7 separate regions of the Homo sapiens genome follow, and regions 1, 2, 3, 5, 6 and 7 are each reported to be linked to region 4. Evidence: microRNA targets listed by miRTarBase, many of them from high-throughput screens and not tested one by one. Region 4 holds a microRNA gene; each other region holds the end of a gene's coding sequence.
Evidence for each region. Region 4 holds the annotated microRNA hsa-miR-485-5p (AGAGGCUGGCCGUGAUGAAUUC, at 867-888, shown strand). A microRNA usually pairs through its seed, bases 2 to 8, with sites in the 3' UTR of a target mRNA and lowers its output. Matches are read on the target gene's strand: a 7mer-m8 pairs with bases 2 to 8, a 7mer-A1 pairs with bases 2 to 7 and ends in A, and an 8mer does both.

Region 1: miRTarBase lists ZNF695 as a target of hsa-miR-485-5p. The part of its 3' UTR that is shown has no 7-base or 8-base seed match.
Region 2: the mRNA of TRAFD1 is a reported target of hsa-miR-485-5p. Seed matches in the 3' UTR shown: 7mer-m8 at 534-540.
Region 3: the mRNA of NOTO is a reported target of hsa-miR-485-5p. Seed matches in the 3' UTR shown: 7mer-m8 at 2,021-2,027 and 8mer at 1,383-1,390.
Region 5: the mRNA of NUP35 is a reported target of hsa-miR-485-5p. The part of its 3' UTR that is shown has no 7-base or 8-base seed match.
Region 6: miRTarBase lists GPR63 as a target of hsa-miR-485-5p. Seed matches in the 3' UTR shown: 7mer-A1 at 1,485-1,491 and 7mer-m8 at 1,522-1,528.
Region 7: the mRNA of LPXN is a reported target of hsa-miR-485-5p. The part of its 3' UTR that is shown has no 7-base or 8-base seed match.

Annotation. Positions count from the first base shown.
Region 1 is chr1:246,984,549-246,987,636 of GRCh38, forward strand. It overlaps ZNF695 (zinc finger protein 695), which reads right to left. Exons shown (of 4, transcript NM_020394.5): 4 at 775-3,088. The coding sequence ends at 2,419. The region is part of intron 4 of ZNF670-ZNF695 (ZNF670-ZNF695 readthrough (NMD candidate)); the gene reads right to left. Among named protein-coding and RNA genes, the nearest start is that of ZNF695, 22 kb to the right of the region's middle.
Region 2 is chr12:112,152,511-112,155,607 of GRCh38, forward strand. TRAFD1 (TRAF-type zinc finger domain containing 1) reads left to right here. Exons shown (of 12, transcript NM_006700.3): 12 at 225-1,094. The coding sequence ends at 281. Among named protein-coding and RNA genes, the nearest start is that of MIR6861, 9.3 kb to the right of the region's middle.
Region 3 is chr2:73,210,516-73,213,612 of GRCh38, reverse strand. NOTO (notochord homeobox) reads right to left here. Exons shown (of 3, transcript NM_001134462.2): 3 at 1,100-2,842. The coding sequence ends at 2,684. Among named protein-coding and RNA genes, the nearest start is that of SMYD5, 2.2 kb to the left of the region's middle. RefSeq lists a silencer at 835-904.
Region 4 is chr14:101,054,561-101,057,657 of GRCh38, forward strand. MIR485 (microRNA 485) reads left to right here and starts at 859; the gene lies at 859-931. MIR134 (microRNA 134) reads left to right here and starts at 127; the gene lies at 127-199. It overlaps MIR668 (microRNA 668), which reads left to right and starts at 698; the gene lies at 698-763. MIR323B (microRNA 323b) reads left to right here and starts at 1,659; the gene lies at 1,659-1,740.
Region 5 is chr2:183,160,548-183,163,644 of GRCh38, forward strand. NUP35 (nucleoporin 35) reads left to right here. Exons shown (of 9, transcript NM_138285.5): 9 at 507-1,133. The coding sequence ends at 584. Among named protein-coding and RNA genes, the nearest start is that of NUP35, 38 kb to the left of the region's middle.
Region 6 is chr6:96,795,654-96,798,653 of GRCh38, reverse strand. GPR63 (G protein-coupled receptor 63) reads left to right here. Exons shown (of 2, transcript NM_030784.4): 2 at 1-3,000. The coding sequence ends at 182. Among named protein-coding and RNA genes, the nearest start is that of GPR63, 40 kb to the left of the region's middle.
Region 7 is chr11:58,524,860-58,527,956 of GRCh38, forward strand. It overlaps LPXN (leupaxin), which reads right to left. Exons shown (of 9, transcript NM_004811.3): 9 at 2,012-2,864. The coding sequence ends at 2,595. Among named protein-coding and RNA genes, the nearest start is that of OR5B21, 18 kb to the left of the region's middle. RefSeq lists a silencer at 1-31.

The sequences.
Region 1 (3,088 bases), not on the chromosome of region 4:
ACACATCTGGCACTGCGTTATGTTTCTTCACTTCATTTATATGCCAAATAGCCCTATGACTTATAAAGCCTCCAAAGTGTTTATCTGAACAAATTGCCCAATAGAGTCAATAAACTCAATTACTCAATTAAGTGAAAGAAACAATAACAAAAAAAGTTGGCTCGAATAGTGTTCTCTAATAATGGAAAAATGGAAATGTACTAATTAAGTACAATGAAAATTAATACACTCACTGTGGAATTATTCACATCTTCAGATTATTTTTTAAGCACCAATAAGTTTCATAAAATCATTATTATAATCCCTGAGAAGATCACATAAGAAATTCTTCATGAATTTTGGAACAAGAAAATTATACGTTAGCTCTAGCATGAGCAACATAAAAGTAAAAACAGGAATTTCATGTGGAAATTCTGCAAAATAAGATTTTAGAGAAATGCCTTCAATACAAAGCAGAGAAAACAGATTTGCCTTCGACATTTTTGAGGTTTCTAGTTTGCTAATAAATTATCCATACTTTTGAAATTATGTTTGGTTCCAACATTTTTCTCTTATTCTGAAAACAGGTATGCACTTACTTCAAACACATTACTTGCTTCATAACTGTCTTACACCTAACATTTATCCTTAGAGTAGTATATTTATGTATTTATCTCCATGTAAACCAAAACTAAAAGCATGTATATGTTTTGCAGGCCAGAAAAGCCACATGTTAAAAGGAAAATGTAAATAAAATTTTGTGAATAGTCCTTCAAGATTCAGAAATACACGGTCTTTGATTATAATCCTATATAGGCTTTATTATAGCCTTAATAATGACACTGTCATTACAAAAAGAGCAAACAGAATGAAGGTGTAACGTGTGGGAACAATATTTTTCAAATTATTTGAAGTTTAATGCCACTGGGAGAAGGGATCATTAGAGATACTATTCCACCATGTTACCCACTATTGTATTGTTACCATTTGTTACCTACAACCGTAACTAAGGTGAGATAGGTTAACGTTGGTGGTAGGATACGCATCACTTAATGTACAACGGTCCAAAGACATTAAAACAATGTCTTATTAAAACAAATTAAGTTCAAACAGTCTAAAAAGAGCATTTCAAAATCCACTGAATTTTATTACCTTAATGTGCAATAGGAAAAACAACTGACTTGTAAAACTCAAATGTTTCTTTCTTAAATATAATGCAGAATAGTACTCTGAAGACCTATCTCATGAATCACTTACAACCCTATTATAAGACAAGTACAAAGAGCCTCTCCAGTTAAATTTCTTCAGGAAGCTTACAATGCAATGTCCATAATCTTCCAAAGAAAAGGATATGAACAACACCCACCCGAATATAGAAGAAACTCTCACAGCTTTCATGTAGCAACAGTAGGCCTCATGCCTTCACATAAACACTAGAAATGAAGGCATGGTATCAAGTGATTTAAGACTTGAATTACATAAATATGTGATTTTCAAAAAAGCTAAAACTCTTTCAGTGCACCGAGTATACTTTATTATTATGTTGTTATTATTATTATTGAGAAAGGGTCTTGCTCTGTTGCCCAGGCAGGAGTGAAGTTGCCAGATAGCAGCTCACTGCATCCTCAACCTCCAGGCTCAAGCAATCCTCCCACCTGAGCCTTCCAAGTAGCTGGGACAACAGGCATGTGCCACCAAGCCTGGCTTTTATTTTACTTTTTGTAGAGATGAGGTTTTGCCATGTTGCCCAGCCTGGTCCCAAACTCCTGGGCTCAAGCAATCCCCCGACCTCGGCATCCAAAAGTGCAGCAACTATAGGAAAGAGCCACCGTGCCTGGCACCAAAAGGTATACTTGAAATGTAATTATAACTTCCCCAAAAGGTGAATCTCCTACTTACTTTAACTTAACTTTGAATTATTCTCTATAACCAACACTCAGATTTACAGTAATGTCTGAAAGTGTCAGTGACTTAGTGCTTTTTACTATGAATTCTTGGATGTGTTTTGATGTAATTTTTGATTAGACATTTTTTCACATTTACTGCATCTGTAAAACAGTTTTTAGTGTGAACACTCTGGTGTTTTCTGAGGTATATTTTTTGAACAAATGTTGTTTCTGCATTTATTACATTTGTAGGGTTTCTCTCCAATACAAAGTCTTTGAAATTGAATACAGTTTGAGCAACTGGAGGGTTTCCCTCCAGTATAAATTCTTCTGTGTACAGTAAGAGCTGTGATATAAGTGGAGGTGTTGAACCGGTCTATTTGTATTGTTCGTAGCCTAAACATTTTAGTGCACTCAAAGGCTCATAGACTGTAAATGGCCTTTTGACAGTCATTACATTTGTAACACTCTTATTCAGTAAAAATATTCTGCTGTGAAGTTGTGAATAGGTATTAAAGACTATGCCATATTGTTTAGAATTGTAGGGTTTTTCTCAGGTATGAGTTTTCTCATGTACAGCAAGTTGTGCAGAGTGGTTAAAGGCTTTGCCACATTCCTCACACTTGTATGGTTTCTCTCTGGTATGAATTGTCTTATGTTTAGAAAGGTGTGAGCTCTGGCCAAAGGCTTTGCCACATTCTTCACATTTGTAGGGTTTCTCTCCAGTATGAATTCTCTTATGATTAGTAAGATATGAAAACCAGTTAAAAGCTTTGCCACATTCATCACATTTGTAGGGTTTCTCTCCAGTATGAATTCTCTTATGTTGAGTAAGGTATGAAAACCAGGTAAAAGCTTTGCCACATTCCTCACATTTGTAGGGTTTCTGCCCAGTATGAATTCTCTTATGCTGAATAAGGTATGAGAACCAGGTAAAAGCTTTGCCACATTCCTCACATTTGTATGGTTTCTCACCAGTATGAATTCTCCTATGTTCAGTCAGATGTGAGCTCTGGTTAAAGGCTTTTCCACATTCTTCACATCGGAAGGTTTTCTCTCCAGTATGAATTCTTCTATGTTGAGTAAGGTATGACAACAATTTAAAGACTTTGCCACATTCTTCACACTTGTAGGGTTTCTCTCTACTATGAATTCTCTTGTGTTGAGTAAGGTATGGGAACAACTTAAAGGATTTGCCACATTCTTCACATTTGTATGGTTTC
Region 2 (3,097 bases), not on the chromosome of region 4:
TCCAGCCCATGATGCTCAGTGGGGGACTCAGACATGGTGGGGCTTGTGTGGCTCCTGAAGTTGTAGAAGTTGTTGGGACCAGGCTGGTTGTGGTTCAAAGATTGTTCCTTTGGCTTTTGAGAAGGAGGTTTCTAAGGAAGCGGGACATTTTCGGGGATCCAGGGGAGGAGTAATGCTTTTTCACTTTTTATGTAAAGCTTCGTTTGTGTTGTGTTGTTCACCAGGCAAAGCCTTCCAAGCAACAGGGAGCTGGGGATGCAGAAGAGGAAGAGGAGGAGTAATGGTGTCTCCAGAGACTTTACATCGGTTCCTGTCTTCTGTGCACAGCAGCACTTGCCGCTGTGCAGGCCCACCTCTTTGGCTCTTTGGGTGGGAGAGTTTTTCCAGATTTTAGATTTTTCTAGGTTATGGCCATTTTGTGTCTTTTGAGGTTGTGCTGTGGGGGTTTGGGTTTGAGGGAAGGGAGCAGGGTGGCGGTTGAGGAACGCTTCAGCCTTAGCTGCTACCTTTCGGCAGCAGTGAAATACAAGCTGCAGCCTCGGCTGCCAGGGCTCCCTTTTGACTTATTGTCGCCACTGCCCCTTGGTGCTGTGTGGTCCCAGTGGAAGGAGGGGAAGATTTTGGAAACCTGGTAGCCACCAGTAAGGTGATTCTCTGCCCTGTTGGGGCCTAAATTTGGGGGCTTTTGGGCAACCTCTCCGTGTACTGCGTCTGTCCACACTCGATTGGGCCCCAGGTGTGTATGAGGCGCTCTGGTAAGGTGCTCAGGCCAGTTGCAATGTCTGTCAGTAACGAGGCTTTTGATGTGTTGAGCTGGAGGTGAGTGGACCGGGGGCTGTGTTTTAAGCTGCTTCCTTGGCATTTGGCATCACTGCCTTCTGTTCCCGGGGGAGCATGGATCTTTTGTCCTCACTGCTTTCTAATGGGGAGGGCTGAGGGCTCCCTGTCCCCACAGCAGGTATGTTGGGCTCTGCCCCAGCCCCACACTTGCTCTGAAAACCAAGTGTCAGAGCCCCTTCCCCTTGTTTTTATTTTACTGTTATAATAATTATTAACTTCCTTGTAATAGAAATAAAGTTTGTACTTGGAGTTCAGCTCAGTCTTGTGGTTCCTTCTCCTGTGTGCTTTAGAGACTGCAGGGAGGGCAGGGTAGGCTGGAGTCAGCCCTGGGGTTGGAGGAGGTGAGCAGGGCTGGGCTTTCTCCGGCACTCCAGTAACCCTCGCAGCTCCACCATGAGTCCCTTCTTGGAGTACACAGACATTGAACGTGTAGTGTTTTAAATTGGACTTCTGAGAAAACTGACAGGCTTGCTGCAGCTCCGGTGATGACTGGGGCTAGAAGGGGTGCCTCTGACTGAATAGAGAAAAGCAGATTCTTCAAAAGCCTTCATCCTGAGAGGAGTTGAGCCCTAGCAGGATTAGCTGTTACCCCTCAGTGCCTCCGTCTGCATAGGACCACTGAGCACCGTAGGTCATTTTGAGTTCCTTTGTTCTTCCAACAACCTGTTGGGGTGGGAAAGGTGGGAGGAACTGCCCTATTTCATAGATGGAACACTAGACACGGGAACCATGCGGCCAGTTCTTTGCAGAGGCAGGTCTCTGAAAAGAATTATCCTGAGAGAAAAAAGCTTCGTCTGCATGCACTCGCGCACACACACAAACGATACATAGTAGGGTTAGATCTTTTAGTGTATGTCAGTTATATCTCAGTAAAACAAAATCACCTTAGCTCAGTGAGACTTTCATGTGTTGTTGCGTGAAAGAAACTGGAGGGACTCGGACTTGCATGGCTTCTGCTGTCATTGAAATCTCCCTGGAACTTCAAAAAGTTGGGAGGAAGGATCCAGGGCAGCTCTAAGTCCTCTCCCCAGCTGGGCCAGGGAACAGTCATGTTGCCCTTAACTGTCTGTTGGAGTGTGGGGATAGACCTGCCAGAAAGTCAAACTCTCCCCACTCTGCCTTTGGTTGGATTAGACATTGAGTAAAATAGTAGGAGGTTGGTTGGTTTTACACTGTTTTTTTGAGACAAAGTCTTGCTCTGTTGCCCGGGCGGGAGTGCAGCGGTGCGATCTTGGCTCACTGCAACCTCCACCTCCCAGGTTCAAGTGATTCTTCTGCCTCAGCCTCCTGCGTAGCTGGGATTACAGGTGTGCGTCACCATGCCCAGCTAATTTTTGTATTTTTAGTAGAGACCGGGATTCACCATGTTGGTCGGCTGGTCTCAAACTGCTGACCTCGTGATCTGCCCACCTCGGCCTCCCACAGTGCTGGGATTACAGGCGTGAGCCACTGTGACCCGCCAACAATGGGGTTTTCTAAATATACAGTTATGTCATCTGCAAACAGAGACAATATGATTTCCTCTCTTCCTACTTGAATACCCTTTATTTATCTTGCCTGACTGCCCTGACCAGAACTTCCAACACTATGTTGAATAGGAGTGGTGAGAGAGGGCATCCTTGTCTTGTGCCGGTTTTCAAAGGGAATGCTTCCAGTTTTTGCCCATTCAGTATGATATTGGCTGTGGGTTTGTCATAAATAACTCTTATTATTTTGAGATGAGTTCCATCAATACCTAATCTATTGAGAGTTTTTAGCATGAAGGGGTGCTGAATTTTATCAAAGGCCTTTTCTGCATCTATTGAGATAATCATGTGTTTTTTGTCATTGGTCTATTTATATGATGGATTACATTTATTGATTTGAGTATGTTGAACCAGCTTTGCATCCCTGGGATGAAGCCGACTGGTGGATAAGCTTTTTGATGTGCTGCTGGATTCAGTTTGCCAGTATTTTTTTTTTTTTTTTTTTTTTTGAGACAGAGTCTCGCTCTGTTGCCCAGGCTGGAGTGCAGTGGCATGATCTCAGCTCACTGCAAGCTCTGCCTCCCGGGTTCATGCCATTCTCCTGCCTCAGCCTCCCGAGTAGTTGGGACTACAGGCGCACGCCCGGCTAATTTTTTTGTATTTTTAATAGAGCCAGGGTTTCACTGTGTTAGCCAGTATGGTCTCGATCTCCTGACCTTGTGATCCACCCACCTTGGCCTCCCAAAGTGCTGGGATTACAGGCGTGAGCCACCGTGCCCGGCCAGTTTACC
Region 3 (3,097 bases), not on the chromosome of region 4:
AGAGTGGGACAGCAGAAGGCCAACTTACTCCTATCCTGTCTAGCTCTCAGCCTGAAGGGAAGGACTAGCTTATACCCCGGAGCTCACTCACCCCACTTGAAGAGTCCAGGACAAGATTTCCTTTCTCGGTAATCCCTCTGGCAGCAGAACAGTCCTGCCAAAGGTCAGGGTGGACTTGTGCCTCTGTCAGATTCTTCAATGGCTTAGGGACCTTGCAACCGGGGGTAGCGGAGGAGTCCATAGGGGACCTCAGATCTGAGAACCTCTGAAACTGGATACAGAAGTGAGTGTGCATATGCACACACTGTCGTGAAAAGGGGGAGGGGCCTGTTCTCTCAGGACCCCAAGAAGCTGCAAACCACAGACCTATGGCATTTGTCCCCACAGCTAGGCCTGACTATCAAGCCTTGTTTTGTTTCCTTGTCCCCTGATTTTGTGAGTTTTGTTTGAGACAGGGTCTCGCTTTGTCGCCCATACTGGCATGGGGCGATCTCGGCTCACGGCAGCCTCCAGCTCCCGGGCTCAAGAACAGACTGGGCAACGTAGTGAGACCTTGTCTCTCCAAAAAATAGAAAAATTTGCCGGGCGTGGTGATGCGTGGGAGGATCACCTGAACCTGGGGAGGTCTAGACTGCAATGAGCCGTGATCAAGCCACAATTATCTATCAAATAATTATAGATAGATAGATAGTTGGCAGGGACAGAGAAAGGTTCTTGAAACTGACCCTGCCTCTCCTCAAGCTTGCAACCTGGTGTCAAGGAGCGAATAGTCCACGGACTTGGGGGAGATAGATAGTTGGCAGGGCCAGAGAAGAGGCTCTTGAAACCGACCCTGGGTCCCCTCAAGCCTGCAGCCCGGTGTCAGGGAGCGAATAGTCCACGTACTTGGGGGCAAACCTACCCGAGAGCAGCTGGGGGCCGTGCCCTCACTCACCACCAGGTGGCAGGGCAGGCTTCCTTCCATCCCTCAGCTCAGTCCCCAAGAGCCATTCTAGAATCTGAATGGTCTGTGCTACAGAAATCAGCTCTGCAAATCCTGGCAGCAGGCTTCTTTCAGAGAAATCGAGCACATTCTTGAGAAGAAAAAGGAGCCATGAGTCAGAGTCATGAAAGGGGGAAATTATAACTGTCCTGTGAAAACACAGCAGAGTTTATGACAAAATGCCAGCCTTGGCATACACAAATTATTCTATAAAAAGATGGGGCTTTGGGAGGCCAAGGCAGGAGAACCACTTGAAGCCTGGAATTCAAGACCAGCCTGGGCAACAAGTGGACGTTGTCTCTACAAAAAATGTTAAAAATTAGCCAGGCGTGGTGTCACGCGCCTGTAGTCCCAGCTGCTTAGGAGGCTAAGGTGGGAGGATCACTAGAGCCCAGGAGGTTGAGGCTGCCGTGAGCTATGATTGCACCACTGCACTCCAGTCTGGGTGACAGAGCGAGTCCTTGTCTTTGCTGCTGGGCCTGAGCTTCTTCTGAGAATGGTAACAGTTCAGACAAAACAAGAAAACGTTGGGAAACTTTGTGAAGTGGGCTAAACAGTCTACCTTCTCTTCTTTGCTCTCAACTCCTTCTGATGGTGAAGAGTCTTCTATGCCCAGATGCTTATTCAAAGAGGTTCCTTCTCCACAGCCAGGCCAGGAAAATATTAATTGCTGGTACAGGTATTACTCCCCCAGGTGAGGGGAGCTGTGATATTATGAAATATATATTTGGTCTTCATCTCGATTTCCTGGCATAGAACTCCTAAAATCCCTAGAATCTCTGAAGTGATGTCTTTTCATATGCTAATGAGTTGACTGATGACTGGTAGACCTTAAGACTCCATAAAAAACAAAAAGGGCAGGGTTGGGCCGGGTGGTGGCTCACACATGTAATCCCAGCACTTTGGGAGGCCGAGGTGGGTGGATCACAAGGTCAGCAGTTCAAGACCAGCCTGACCATATGATGAAACCCCGTCTCTACTAAAAATATAAAAATTAGCCAGGCATGGTGGCATGCGCCTATAGTCCCAGCTGCTCGGGAGGCTGAGGCAGGAGAATCGCTTGAACCCGGGAGGCGGAGGTGGCGGTGAGCCAAGATCGCGCCACTGCAGTCTGTCTCAAAAAAAAAAGAAAGGAGGGGCTGCCATGTGGAATGAGCCCTGAATCTGTGGGGTCAGACACTACCTGCAGGTAGATCATGTCAGAATTTGCTGAACTGGAGGTTGGAATGTGGGGTACACCCCTATACGTTTGGTCACAGAAGTGTTCTGTGTTGATTGTTGTGGGGTGACAGCAGAAGAAAAAAACTTTTTTTTTTCCAGTTGGTCTTCTCTACTCAGGGGCCTACAAGCCTTAACAGTAACCACACACTTTGCACTGTGCATGGCACATTATTGCTTTACAGACATCTTCTCACCCCTGGGTGATCTAAGTTATGAATGCACCCATTATACAGATAAAGAAAAAAGGCTCGGAAGTTCCATAGGTTGGCCAAGGACATAGCTGAAGGCCAGAGTCTGTGCCTCCAATCATTACATTATTCCAGTTTCCAGGAATCAGTATAGAAAAGGGGGTCCCTGCTTGACAGCTCAGATTCTTCTGGTTGAGGAGGCTTTTCGTTGAGGTGTGAGGCAGGGAGCTCCAGTGGGTACCCCCAGGAGGAACTAGTCCAGGCAGCCTGGCTAGGGCCTCTGTCCCAGTCTTCAGCCGTCCACTCCTGACTCGGCATCATCACTCTGGATACTGGCGATGGAGCTGCTGGAAGGCTCATCCAGGGAGGCAGCCTCGGCAGATGTAACTGCTGCCCTCAGCTTTTGCTGCTTCTGATACTTGACCCTGCGGTTCTGGAACCAGACTCTCACCTATAATTGGAGAGTGGGCAGAGATCAGAATGTGACCATCAGGTCCCACTGCTTCCTAATTCCTGGAGTGAACACCCCTCTCTGCCTGGCCAATATTTGCTCTTCCTTCTCAGGGAGGTACCTCCTCCAAAACACCCCTTTCTACAATTCCAGACACCATTCATTCATCTGAGTATTTACTGAGTTTCCAGTATGTGCTAAGCACCATCCTAGGTGATGCTGATACAGTGGTGAGCAACAGAGGCAAGCTGCCTG
Region 4 (3,097 bases):
ATGGGTCTCACCAACTCTGGGGAATCAGCTGTGGTTCTGTCACCAGCGTCACCTCACAAGACTTTGAAGAGAGGCTCCCTGGGCCCCAGGCCGACTTCCAGAAGAGATGTTGGTGTCAGCACCGTCCAGGGTGTGTGACTGGTTGACCAGAGGGGCATGCACTGTGTTCACCCTGTGGGCCACCTAGTCACCAACCCTCAGCATCACTCCCACTCCAGGAAGACTTTCCAGAGCTCCCACCAACTCTGGGGAAGCGGCCATGGACTTGCTGTGACTGCTTGGTGGACTGCGATGACACGTGCTCTTGGGGGTGTATGTTTACTTAAAATGCAATGAGTCAGCCTTGGCAGCCCCTTCACCACTGTGACAGCCTCCTTGAAGTGTTGACTTCCGATGTGGGACGCCATGTTGTCTTCTGTTGAGGGACCTGATGTGGGCCAGCTTTTCTCCTGGGTGTGTGACTGAATCCTTCTTCCCAGAGCATGTGCTGCCTTTGTTAGGTCTGTCACGTCGTCCTCTAATACCCAGCATCCTGTCTCTCCCTAGGAGGCTCCATGGAGATAATGCGGCTTTGGGAAGCGGCCATGATTCTCCTGTCAGGGACCAGTGAGCTACGCAAAAGCTCCCTGTCTTGTCTGGAAGGACGAACTGCATCCTTGCTGCTGGGGAGAAGGCAGTGCCCTCAGCACTCCCTTAAGGTAAGTGCGCCTCGGGTGAGCATGCACTTAATGTGGGTGTATGTCACTCGGCTCGGCCCACTACCCAATACTATCCCACCCATTCCTAACAGGACTCCCGAGAAGGGCGGCCACCTCTGCCAGAGAGGCAATGGATTTCTCACCAGTGTTCATGTGTGGTACTTGGAGAGAGGCTGGCCGTGATGAATTCGATTCATCAAAGCGAGTCATACACGGCTCTCCTCTCTTTTAGTGTCAAATTCTGCCTCGGAGGGCTTCCTGAGCCAGTGCTGCTTCCAAGGTAGGTTTCTGGATGGCTGACCCCATGGCAAGCATTTTCCTGAGGATGCATGTAACTGACCTACTAACTTTAGAGTCCAAGCTGACCCTAAAACAACTTCCTGGGGCACTACCAACTTTAGGAAAATCGAGAGAGGTTGTTGGGATGCCCTAATTTTTTAAAAGTTAAGATTGAAATACACATGGCTGACTTCTTTTTTTATTCCTATCAAATTCAACCTTGGAGTTGAATCTTGGGCATCTAGAAGCATCTTTTATTAGTCAGCCGTCGGGATACAGAAGAAAACAGGAACAGGACTCTGTGCGACCCCTGGTTTACTAACCCACAGCAGCCTTACACCCTCCAGAGAATTCCTGTAAGGGAATCCCAGGTTTACCAAGGAGGCAGTGCTTAGCCTGCTTTTGCACACACATTTGTGTGTGGTTTGCTTCATATTTAATGACTCCTGTGCCACTGACATCCTTGCATTATTAAATGTTGCCTGCATGGCCAGCTGAGCACAAGAAGTGGTATTTCTGTGCACACTAATCCTGGCTTGGTGAACCTGGGGTTGGCCGGAGAGCATGGGTTTGAGCCACCTGGTCCACTCATCCTCAGGGTCCCATCCACCCTCAGAGGCCACTCCCAAGCTGCCCAGGCTGTGCAGAAGATGCAGGAATGCTGCGAGCAGTGCCACCTCATGGTACTCGGAGGGAGGTTGTCCGTGGTGAGTTCGCATTATTTAATGATGCCCAATACACGGTCGACCTCTTTTCGGTATCAGATCTCACCAGGTGTCTTCTTGGACCTGATGCCGATTTAGGGGACACCATACTCATGTTGGTTCCACACCAGTGCAACTGAACATGTGTGTGGCCCTGGAACCAATGGGTAGGTGCTGCTAGCACTCCTAATCCTCAGCCAGTGCATTCCTGGGGAAGAAGCATGTGATCTGTGCTCAAGACCCCTCTGTGACTGAGGAAGTGGTGGTGCCCATGATGCTTCTGGGGTTTTGTGTTTTTTTTTAAAGAAAAACAATGTATAGTTCTCTTCTCTTTCACTATTAAATCTTACCATGGAGGAAGGACTTCTTAGACATGTTGACAAATTCAGGGAAGGGGCGTTGATTTCAGCATTCTTGGGGACTCACTGGAAGGGTGACTCACCACATCTGTTGATCTGGAGGCCACAGCAAATTTAAGAACAGAAGACAGTTGCATTTTCAATTTCTTGTTTTTCTTTTCAAAAAGGATAATTATTCTACCTTATTACCATATTTATGAAAATGACACATGCTTAATAAAATTCAAGCGATGTGGAAAAATCTAAATGAAAAAGAAGGAAAATTGCCCAATTCTCTGGCACCCAGAAATAACCATTAAGGGCTTTAGAAATTTCATACACCTGTCTGAGCATACATGCAAATAGAAAAACAAGACAGACGCAGGGAAAATATGAGATCACACTGTACCTAATCATTTTATTAAAAATGCTAACTATAATTTTCCTTGAATTTATCATAAAAAACAAGCTAAAGGAGATTGAAATGATTGATAAATGTTTCTCGCTTTACCACCACAGGTAGCAACTCCTAAAAGATCCCTGTAAAATTAAGAAAAATTAGAGTGTAAAAATTAAGTGGTTAGGATTGTTATGGTTTTTAACTATTTCAATTTCACTCCTAGTTCAGAAAGATAAAGAAGTCAGCATTCTTATTCTTCCTTTGCTTACTATCTCCTGCTTTTTCTCAATTATACATTTTAATTTTACATTATAAATATCTGCAATTTGTTCTAGAACTATAATTCTTGCAGGTGTTTTGCCATAGTTCTATATTTAAATGAATTCATTTCTGACCACAAGGTTTGTTTTTTTTTAACTGAGGTTTCTCCGTTCTTTAGTTTTTAAGTTTAATTTATCTCTCAATGGAAATGATCTTATTGTTTCTGTGAGAATAGCTCATAGACACTACCCTTGAGTTCCTGTGCATTTGAGAGTATATATCTCTTTATGCACAAGGGACAGCTTAACTAGGTATAAAAGTCTCAGCCTACTTGTTTTTTCTCAGAAATTTATAGCTATTGTCCACTGTTTTTTGCATTGAGGCTTTCACTAGCTGTCTTAATGTGGCTTCTCCATG
Region 5 (3,097 bases), not on the chromosome of region 4:
AATTTTTTGTATTTTTAGTAGAGATGGGACCATGTTGGCCAGGGTGGTCTCAAACTTTTGACCTCAAGTAATCTGCCCACCTTGGCCTCCCAAAGTGCTGGGATTACAGACCTGAGCCACTGCGCCCAGCTATTCAATTTTCTAATTTAAGAAACAGATGTTATTTGCTTTGCCAAAGGAATAAAATTTTGGCATTCTTAAAAGCATAAGGATATTCTAAGTCCATATTTTAATTTTAAAAATATACAATTCAGGCCGGGCGCAGGGGCTCATGCCTGTAATCCCAGCACTTTGGCAGGCCGAGGCGGGCGGATCACGAGGTCAGGAGATCGAGACCATCCTGGCTAACACGGTGAAACCCCGTCTCTACTAAAAATACAAAAATTTACAATTTAGTGCTATAAATGCATTTTGGTGTTTCTCTTTTAAATGAGCAATTCTAGAATTGCCTATGACACTGAAGTAACAATAACCTAACCGTTTTTTTTGTGTGTGTTTTTTAATAGGTTATTTCTGACAGACAAACGCCAAAAAAAGATGAAAGTCTTGTATCCAAAGCAATGGAGTACATGTTTGGCTGGTAGTAGAACACCAAGAAGGAGGTTGCTACACTAAAACAGAGTTAGCAGAGTGCTGCTGGTTCCTTCGGTTAGTTATATAACTGTTCCTGCAGTATTGGATAGCTATCTCATACTTCTTTTAGAAAGAAGCCTTTTTCATTAAGGATACAACCTATTTGTAGCTCGCACTTTAAAAGATGCTTGAGATACATTTTAAAGAAAACTAAAAATCCCTGTAAATAGGATTTTGTGCTTTCTGTAACAGTGCATGCTTCAGCACAGAAAACTCAGCATTGATTATTGTAAATTAAATAACTGAAATTGTGGTGAGACGTCATAGTCTTCATGAGAACGTGGGGGTGAATTTCATGAAGGGGAACTATAGTTATTTCTACCGACACAAATATTATAATTAGCAATTTGAATTATGGTCTTTTAATTTAGATAGTATTTAATATTTTAATTATCCTTGTTTGTATATGTCCTGTCACAGAGTGTCCTCTTGGTGTATTCTAAAACGAGCATTCTTTTAAAAAACCTAAAGTTTCTTGATAATAAACATTGTCAATGATATGTGTATTAGTCTGTTTGCATTGCTATAAAGGAGTACCTGAGGCAGGATAATTTATTAAAAATAAGAGGTTTATTTGGCTCAGGGTTTAATTGGCTTGTAGCTGTACAAGAAGCATGATGCTTTACTTGTGGAGGAAAGTAAAGAAGAGTGAGCATATCACATGGTGAAAGAGAGGAAGAGAGCAGGAAGAAGGAAGTTCTAGACTCTTTTTAATAACCAGATCTCACATGAACTCATTACTGCAGGGAGGACACCAAGCCATTCATGAGGGATCTGCCCCCATGATCTAAACATCTCCCACTAGTCCCCACTTCCAACATCGGGGACCATATTTCAACATGAGATTTGAAGGGGACAGATATCCAAATGATATCAATATGTATTGAACATTTTTTGAAAGGGTGATTTATTATAAAAAGCTTTAAGTATTCATTGAAAGAGAAAATATGTATGAACCACTATATACCAGCTTTAATTACCATTAAATTTTGCCATACTTGTTTCTTTTCTTTCCCTTTTATTTTGTTTAAAGCACATCCCAGATAAGATGTCATTTTACTCTAAATACGTGAGGATATATCAAAAAAGAATATTTCTACATGGAATTACAATGTCAGTATCCCATTGAACATAATTAATACCTTTTTTTTTTTTTTTTGAGACAGAGTCTTGCTGTGTCACCCATACTGGAGTGCAGTGGTGCGATCTTGGCTCCCTGCAGCCTCTACTTCCTGGGCTCAAGTGATTCTTGTGCCTCAGCTTCCCAATTAGCTGGGACTACAGGCGTGTGCCACCATGCCTGGCTAATTTTTGTATTTTTAGTAGAGACGGGATTTCACCATGTTGGCCAGGTTGATATTGAACTCTTGAACTCAAGTGATTCACCTACCACGGCCTCCTAAAGAGCTGGGAAGTATTACTAAGTAATACTAAGGAATGTACTGGCATGAATGAAGATTCATTTATAAAGTATATTTTCATCTGAAAACTTTTACATTGAAGTCTTTTTCTTCCAGTTTAGGATTATATTTTATATCCTATTTCATAATGTGCAGAACTCAATTATTCAATATAGAACTGGCTACTAAATTCCATTTTAAAAGTCGTGCATTTGTATTTGAATTAATACACATTTTATTAAAAGGGTTGTTTATTGGAGGGGGTGTTTTATTTATTTGCATAGGCCTTTATGGACTGTGAAGTTTGCTTTTGGGCAAAAAATATTTGTTTGCTATATTTTGTTATTTCTCTTGGTATCATATCTTACCCATCTTTGTATCTGTCATTTATTTTAAAAGATCCAGGAAAATTTCAGAAAGCGAGCTGTCCTATTTTTGAACACTATATAAAAACAACAAAAATGGAATATCTGTGATGTTAGGAAAGTTACCCTGAACTAAGCCTCCTTTTAAAAGCTCAGAGAAGCTGACTTCAAAAAAAATAACGTGAAACTATAATCATGCAAGTTTGTTTAAAAAAAAAAAAGAGTATAAGGAAGAAAATAACATCCCTGTAGACATTGAAAGCACACCAGAAAGGCATGCCCATAAATGGATAGAAGCTATAGAGTAGTACTTAAAATTGAGTTTTAAGACATTTAGAAAATGATACAAGATATGAAAGAACAACAAAAATAAAATTGAAGAACTTGGGAAAATGTTAGTAATAGAGGAAAATCACTCATAAATTAAGACTAGAATAAACAACAGCTGATGAACAACAGATATGCCCTAAAAGAAATGAAAGATAAAAATGGAGGACTTTTAGAAATCAGAAAGAAAAGAGATAAAAAGGATTAGTAGGGGTATGACAAACTCTAGAGACAGAAAAAATGCAACATACAGAACAAAATCAAATGACTACTTTGATGAAAAAAATTTGGAACTACACATTGGAAGAGTAACCTGCCTACCTGAGATTATTATACTGGGACAACCAATGGCAATATACAAACTTTGGGTTT
Region 6 (3,000 bases), not on the chromosome of region 4:
GCTACCTCAAGTCTGCATTGAATCCGCTGATCTACTACTGGAGGATTAAGAAATTCCATGATGCTTGCCTGGACATGATGCCTAAGTCCTTCAAGTTTTTGCCGCAGCTCCCTGGTCACACAAAGCGACGGATACGTCCTAGTGCTGTCTATGTGTGTGGGGAACATCGGACGGTGGTGTGAATATTGGAACTGGCTGACATTTTGGGTGATGCTTGTTCTTTATTGACATTGAATTCTCTTTCTCATAGCCTCTCCACTTTATTTTTTTTTATAGGGTTTGTGTATGTATGTGTGTGAGCAGTGTAAAGAAAGAATGGTAATTATAGTTCTGTTACCAAGAATAAATAATAGGAAAGTGATTACAAATATTACCTCCAGGGTTCAATAGAAATCCTCAATTTAGGGTGAGGAGACTTTTTTTTGGTTTTGGGGTTTTTCCTTGATTGATTTTGTTTTCATAGTGGGAATCAGGATTGTGCTTTATTGAGCCTGCAGTTACATTGAATTGTAGGTGTTTCGTGTGCTGCTAAGGTATGCTTATTTGAGTTTATCAAGACTTTTTTTTTCTGGAAGACACTGCTGCTTTTACCATCACATTGGAGCCAAACATCTCAATCAATATATATTTAGTTTTATTTTAAAAACTAACCCAGGAAGGTTAGCGACATTTTAAGGGTCATTACTATTTACTTTGGTGCACTTTAAGAGATAATGTACAAATTAATTCAGTCTTATTTTTCAGAATTGTTTTTATACATGATATGTGCTTTAGGAAATGTGCATTATCATTTATGGGAAGATAGTTTTAAGAAATGTTTTATCTGCATGTACAGTTGTAAAAGAGAACATAAAATGTAGATACTTTTCTAAGCACAATAGCAACTCTTCAAGCAATAGCGCAAAATCTAGGAGACAGGATCCTTGCAAATTTAAAAGGTGAATGTAGTGAGGGGGATGGCAAGTGGCTGGTACAGGCTGTGGTGATTCCTTTTACTCAAGGGTTTTTGTGGAGTATAGGGAGAAGGGGTTGATATTTATGGACACCTATGTGTCAGGCACTGTGCATCATTTTATCCTTACAGGATGTTGTGAGGTAGGTATTATTGTTTTCATTTTTACAGGTGAAGAAAGCAGGTCTCAGAGGGACTAAAATCCTGCCCAAGGTTAGTGGTAGAGCTGGGATCCAAAAATCTGTCAGAATCCTGAGACTGCGCTGTTCCACTGTGCCACGCAGACAGTTCATTCAGTTTAGATGTCACATAGTCAAGAGGGAACTCTATGCATCCTTTAATTTTTTAGACTATGATATTCTTTTTAAAAATTAGCCTTTATTTTCTAACTACCAAAAGAAATATGAAAGCATTACAGAAACACTGGAAAATAGAAAAGAAAAAATAAAATCACTTACAACCACTTTTTGTTTTTTGGAGTCTCGCTTTGCCACCCAGGCTGGAGTGCAGTGGTGTGATCATGGCTCATTGTAGCCTCAACCTCCCAGGCTCAGGTAATCCTCCTGTCTCAGCCTCCTGAATAGCTGGAACCACACACACACACGCACACACAGGTGTGTGCCACCACACCCAGCTATTTTTTTGTATTTTCTTTTGTAAAGACAAGGTTTCACCATGTTGCCCAGGCTGGTCTCAGAGTCCTGAGCTCAAACGATCTGCCTGCCTTGGCCTCCCAAAATGTTGGGATTACAGGCATGAGCCACCACATCTGACCTACAACCACTTTTTAATGTGAGACTTAAAAATCTTAGATAAATAAGGCTGTGAAGCAAAACCAGTGATTTTTTTTTTTGTTTTTGATTTGCAAAACAAGTGACTGACAATTATTGAGAAATTAAAGATAGCTATGTGTAGGTCTTGCCCCTGCGGGTTTGGAGGTTTCCAGTTGTCCATCTGTGTTAGTTGTAAGTGTTCTGGGCAGAATAGTATTGTTGCCCCAATGCTTGCCCTAGCAGAGCTGGAGTTTGTGAACGTGCTCAGATGTGTGTCTCCTACAAAGAAGGGAAAATGAACCCTCGTCTGAGCCTAGAACAAGTTTTAATAGGGCATGTCTGACATTTCAAATTGTTTTTCTCTTGCTGACAGTCTGCCCCCAGGTGCATCTAGGGCCTTGGTCAGCTTCTCTGTTACCAGTGGCTCACTTTATAAAACAGCCCACAGGGATAAGGGCTGAAAATATAGCCACTTGGCTACATCATTGACTAATTAAGTAAGTTAACTGTGGATTTATAGCATCTTTTCAGGATGTTAGTGTTTTGTGAGCCAGTGGAAAAAATAAGCTTCTATTTCTTCATTTGTAAAACCAGAGAGTTGGATTAGATGAATCTCTAACGTCCTGTCCAGCTCAAATGTGCTTTCCTCTATACTAGGGTATAGATTTTTGAAGAGCCTAGCTGACTTCAGCATCACCTCACCCTTTGGTCTCCAGTATTACTTCTTTACATTTTACTTCATTAGCTATTTCTTAATATTAAATGTCTGAAGAGTGTGGCACTGTATCAGGAGTTGGGGCATTGAAAGGTTGAAGACATCATGAAATATCTGGGAAACTCTGCTCTTAAGGAAATTGCACCGATGTTGGAACTCATTGTCCAGTTAAAGAGCTCTTTGGGGACTCAAGCATATTATTCAACATGTTGTTTTGGGATTATCTTCAAATGATAGTCACCTACCTCTTTCATTTCTAATTTTTATTCACAGGTAAAATTGTTTTTGTCCATAGGGATTTTATAGGACATAAGCACTGTAGTAGATACTAGTAGCATTTTGAAGTGTATTATGCTCTCCATTTTCCATATAAACTAGATTTCAAGCAGATATTGATAAGGACATTTTTTATTAGACTTTTCTCTGAGGAAAGTCAGCATGATCTGTATTCATCTTACATATTGATAGGTCATGAAGACTCCTTTTTGGCTGGAGGTGAAACTGAGCTTTGTTTTCTTTGTTCCTGTTTTATGGGCAGTCTTTAGGTACTTTCATGCTGC
Region 7 (3,097 bases), not on the chromosome of region 4:
CTTTATCAAAGTATTACCTTGGAAGAGACTAAATTTACTTCAAAGAAAAACTGACCAAACTAATTGAGGGACTCCCCTTTGAGAATACAGTGCCAACTCTAGAGCATATTCCTTTCTATATGTTTATATTCACTGGTGGAAAATCCCTGTCCTGTGAGGGTGGGTTTTATTTTTTAAACATCCTAGAAGTTACTCAAAACCAAAAGTAAATAAGTACGTGATCAATTTTAGTAATGGCATTTCCAGGGTTTTTAAAAAGCAGAACTTTTTACTTGTGAGTAGTTTCCTTATTGCTAAAACACTGGTCCTGAAGTCAGTATCTCTTTTTGAGCAAATAAAACCACTTCCGTTCAATGTGGGAAGAAAGTGTTTTCACTTCTTAATTACATCTTAGTGAACTCTGGATTTTCTTTGACATTTAAAAATAGTTAAATTCTATTGAATCTCAAAATAGCTAATCCTTTTTAAAAAAGTTTTAGCACCTGTACATTTCTTTTTAAGGGCTAAAACTCCAAGTTTATTTTGTCAAATTGCCAAGGCAACCAAGAACATTGCCATATTAACACCTGCGTGTGACATCGTTGAGTGAAGACATTGCAAAGAGGATGTTTAAAAGTTGAATGTGTGTTCTGCATAGTCTGGCGCTCTCAGACAGCCAAACAGGATAGAGGCCAGATGGTTCCGTATCTGTGTGGCCTCCCACATATCTTACATGCATTTGGAGTTCCTATTTTATAGAATTAACTGTTGCCAATTCCTTGTAACTCTCACAACCCCCTTATTATCCATTCCAACAAAGGACATAGATATAATAAAGTTTGGCAAGAAACATTTAATCCATTTCAGCTCTCCCAAGTAGTACTATTCCTCTATCAATCTAAAGACATCAAATTTTGTCCTATTTTTAAAAATACCTCCAGTGAAGGAGTTTTCGCCAGTAACTTATCTCAGAATCAAGGATTCTAAGAGTCTGGTTTTTGTTATAACAAATAATCACACAATTATTTTTAAGACCACGGGAAGAAAGATATTGTACTGATCTTCTCAATATCCCTTTTGCAGAAAGATTAGTCCTTGTGAAGCTTACTTTTATAAAAAGTAAACTGTAGGACAGTAAACTGACAGGACATAAGAAAATCAGATTCTCTGATAACCTGACAAGCTTTTCTAAACATTTACTTATAATATTTTGAGATGAACAAATGATTAAGAGGAATTTTTCTTTGAGTCTTGGCTTTCCTAATTCTAGATAATAATCATTTGAGCTTTATTTATAGCATCTTTCTTCAGAGATGCTCTAAGAACAGCCATCTCATTTGTCTTCAGGAGGCAAATGTGAAATTGTGTTTCATTTTTTACTTTAGAAATGAATTTGTGGCTGGGCGCAGTGGCTCACGCCTGTAATCCCAACACTTTGGGAGGTCGAGGTGGGTGGATCACCTGAGGTCGGGAGTTTGAGACCAGCCTGACCAACGTGGAGAAACCCCATCTCTACTAAAAATAGAAAAATTAGCCTGGTGTGGTGGCGCATGCCTGTAATTCCAGCTACTCAGGAGGCTGAGGCAGGAGAATTGCTTGAACCCAGGAGGTGGAGGTTGCGGTCAGCCGAGATCGCGCCATTCCACTCCAACCTGGGCAACAAGAGCGAAACTCCATCTCAGAAAAAAAAAAAAAGGAAAAAGAAATGAATTTGTAAGGTTTCTAATGGAGAGCCAGGGTTTCTCCTCCTGTAAACAAAGTAATAAAAACAATTTTAAGAAGCTTTGTCATTTTTAAAAATGATTCAATCATCTAAGTCTAGAAAATAAAATGGTTATGGGACCAAACTAAAAAGAAAAAAAAGAAAAATTAGTGAAAAGGAGACCCTCCTTTTAATTTCTTCTGATTAAAAATTTTAAAGTGTGCATTGGATGGAAGGAAACGAGGTATGATATAATCTTAATTGTACATAGTGCCTAGTATATAACACGGGAAGCAGAAAGTTTATCTCCCAAACAAATATGACAATGAGTTATTGAAACCACAAGCCAGTTTATTTATCAATGATGTCAGTACTCAAAGTTGTCCAGTTAAAATCTACTTCCTCTTGAAAAACAAAAATACACTGAAGGAAGATGCAAAGAGCTAAAAGTGGTATCATGATTCCACAGCAGTGATTGTAAGACAGTGAGCCACAGGGAAATGGGAAAACGTGAAAAGAAACAAGTATCAGGACCAAATTAGAGAAGATATGAGTAGGGCCATCACTAGAGGTGAAAATGGAGAAACCTAAGAAAACCAGTGTTGGCATGAATTATGCAAGTGGAAAATACATCTGTAGAGGGACGAGATAGAAGGACCTAGATCTAACTCCAAGTGCTTGATTGGAGAAGAGAGGGAGAAAGAGAATTTATAGAATTAACTGTATAGAAGCCTAAAAAATAAGATTATCAGCCTAGTCATGTAAAGTCTAGAAGTTCCTTTATTTGCTCATCACCTTTCCTTTTTCTATAAGACTATTAAGCAGAAGGTCAGTAACAGAAAATTTACCCTTTCCTCTCCTCTCTTGGTTTAAATTTTATAAGGAATCTGAAGAGGCTATGGATCAGTTGGCATTACAGTGGGAAGAGCTTATTGAAGCAAGGTTGACAATAGGTCTTGTCATTCTGCTCCCTGAAAATGCCCTTCGACAACTGTGTCAGGCAGAAAGCACACACAAAGTGCTCAGGATGGAACTTGTACCCCATGGCACTGATACAACGGCCAGTGATGGGCTGCCCACACCCATGGCAGAGCGTTCCCCGGCGGTGATGGTAATGGAGCTCACAGAATGGACGTCCATCCAGTTCAAAGAAGGAGCCAGTAGAAAAACTGGTGAAGCAGTCCTGGGGTAGAGAGAAGAGAGAGAAAAAGAATGCAAATGTCAAGAGGTAAAATGTCAGCAAAGTAAAATTTTCAGCCTTGAAATTCCTGACAGTTACCTGCCAGCTACAGGAATTTCCCTCAGGTTCTTGACAAATGGAGACTAGATTTCCCGCTTGCAAAACAGACAAGCAAATGGATCTGTATCTCGTTTCTCCTTTAGGATGCGCACATCCATTCCTCATTCAGGACTGTG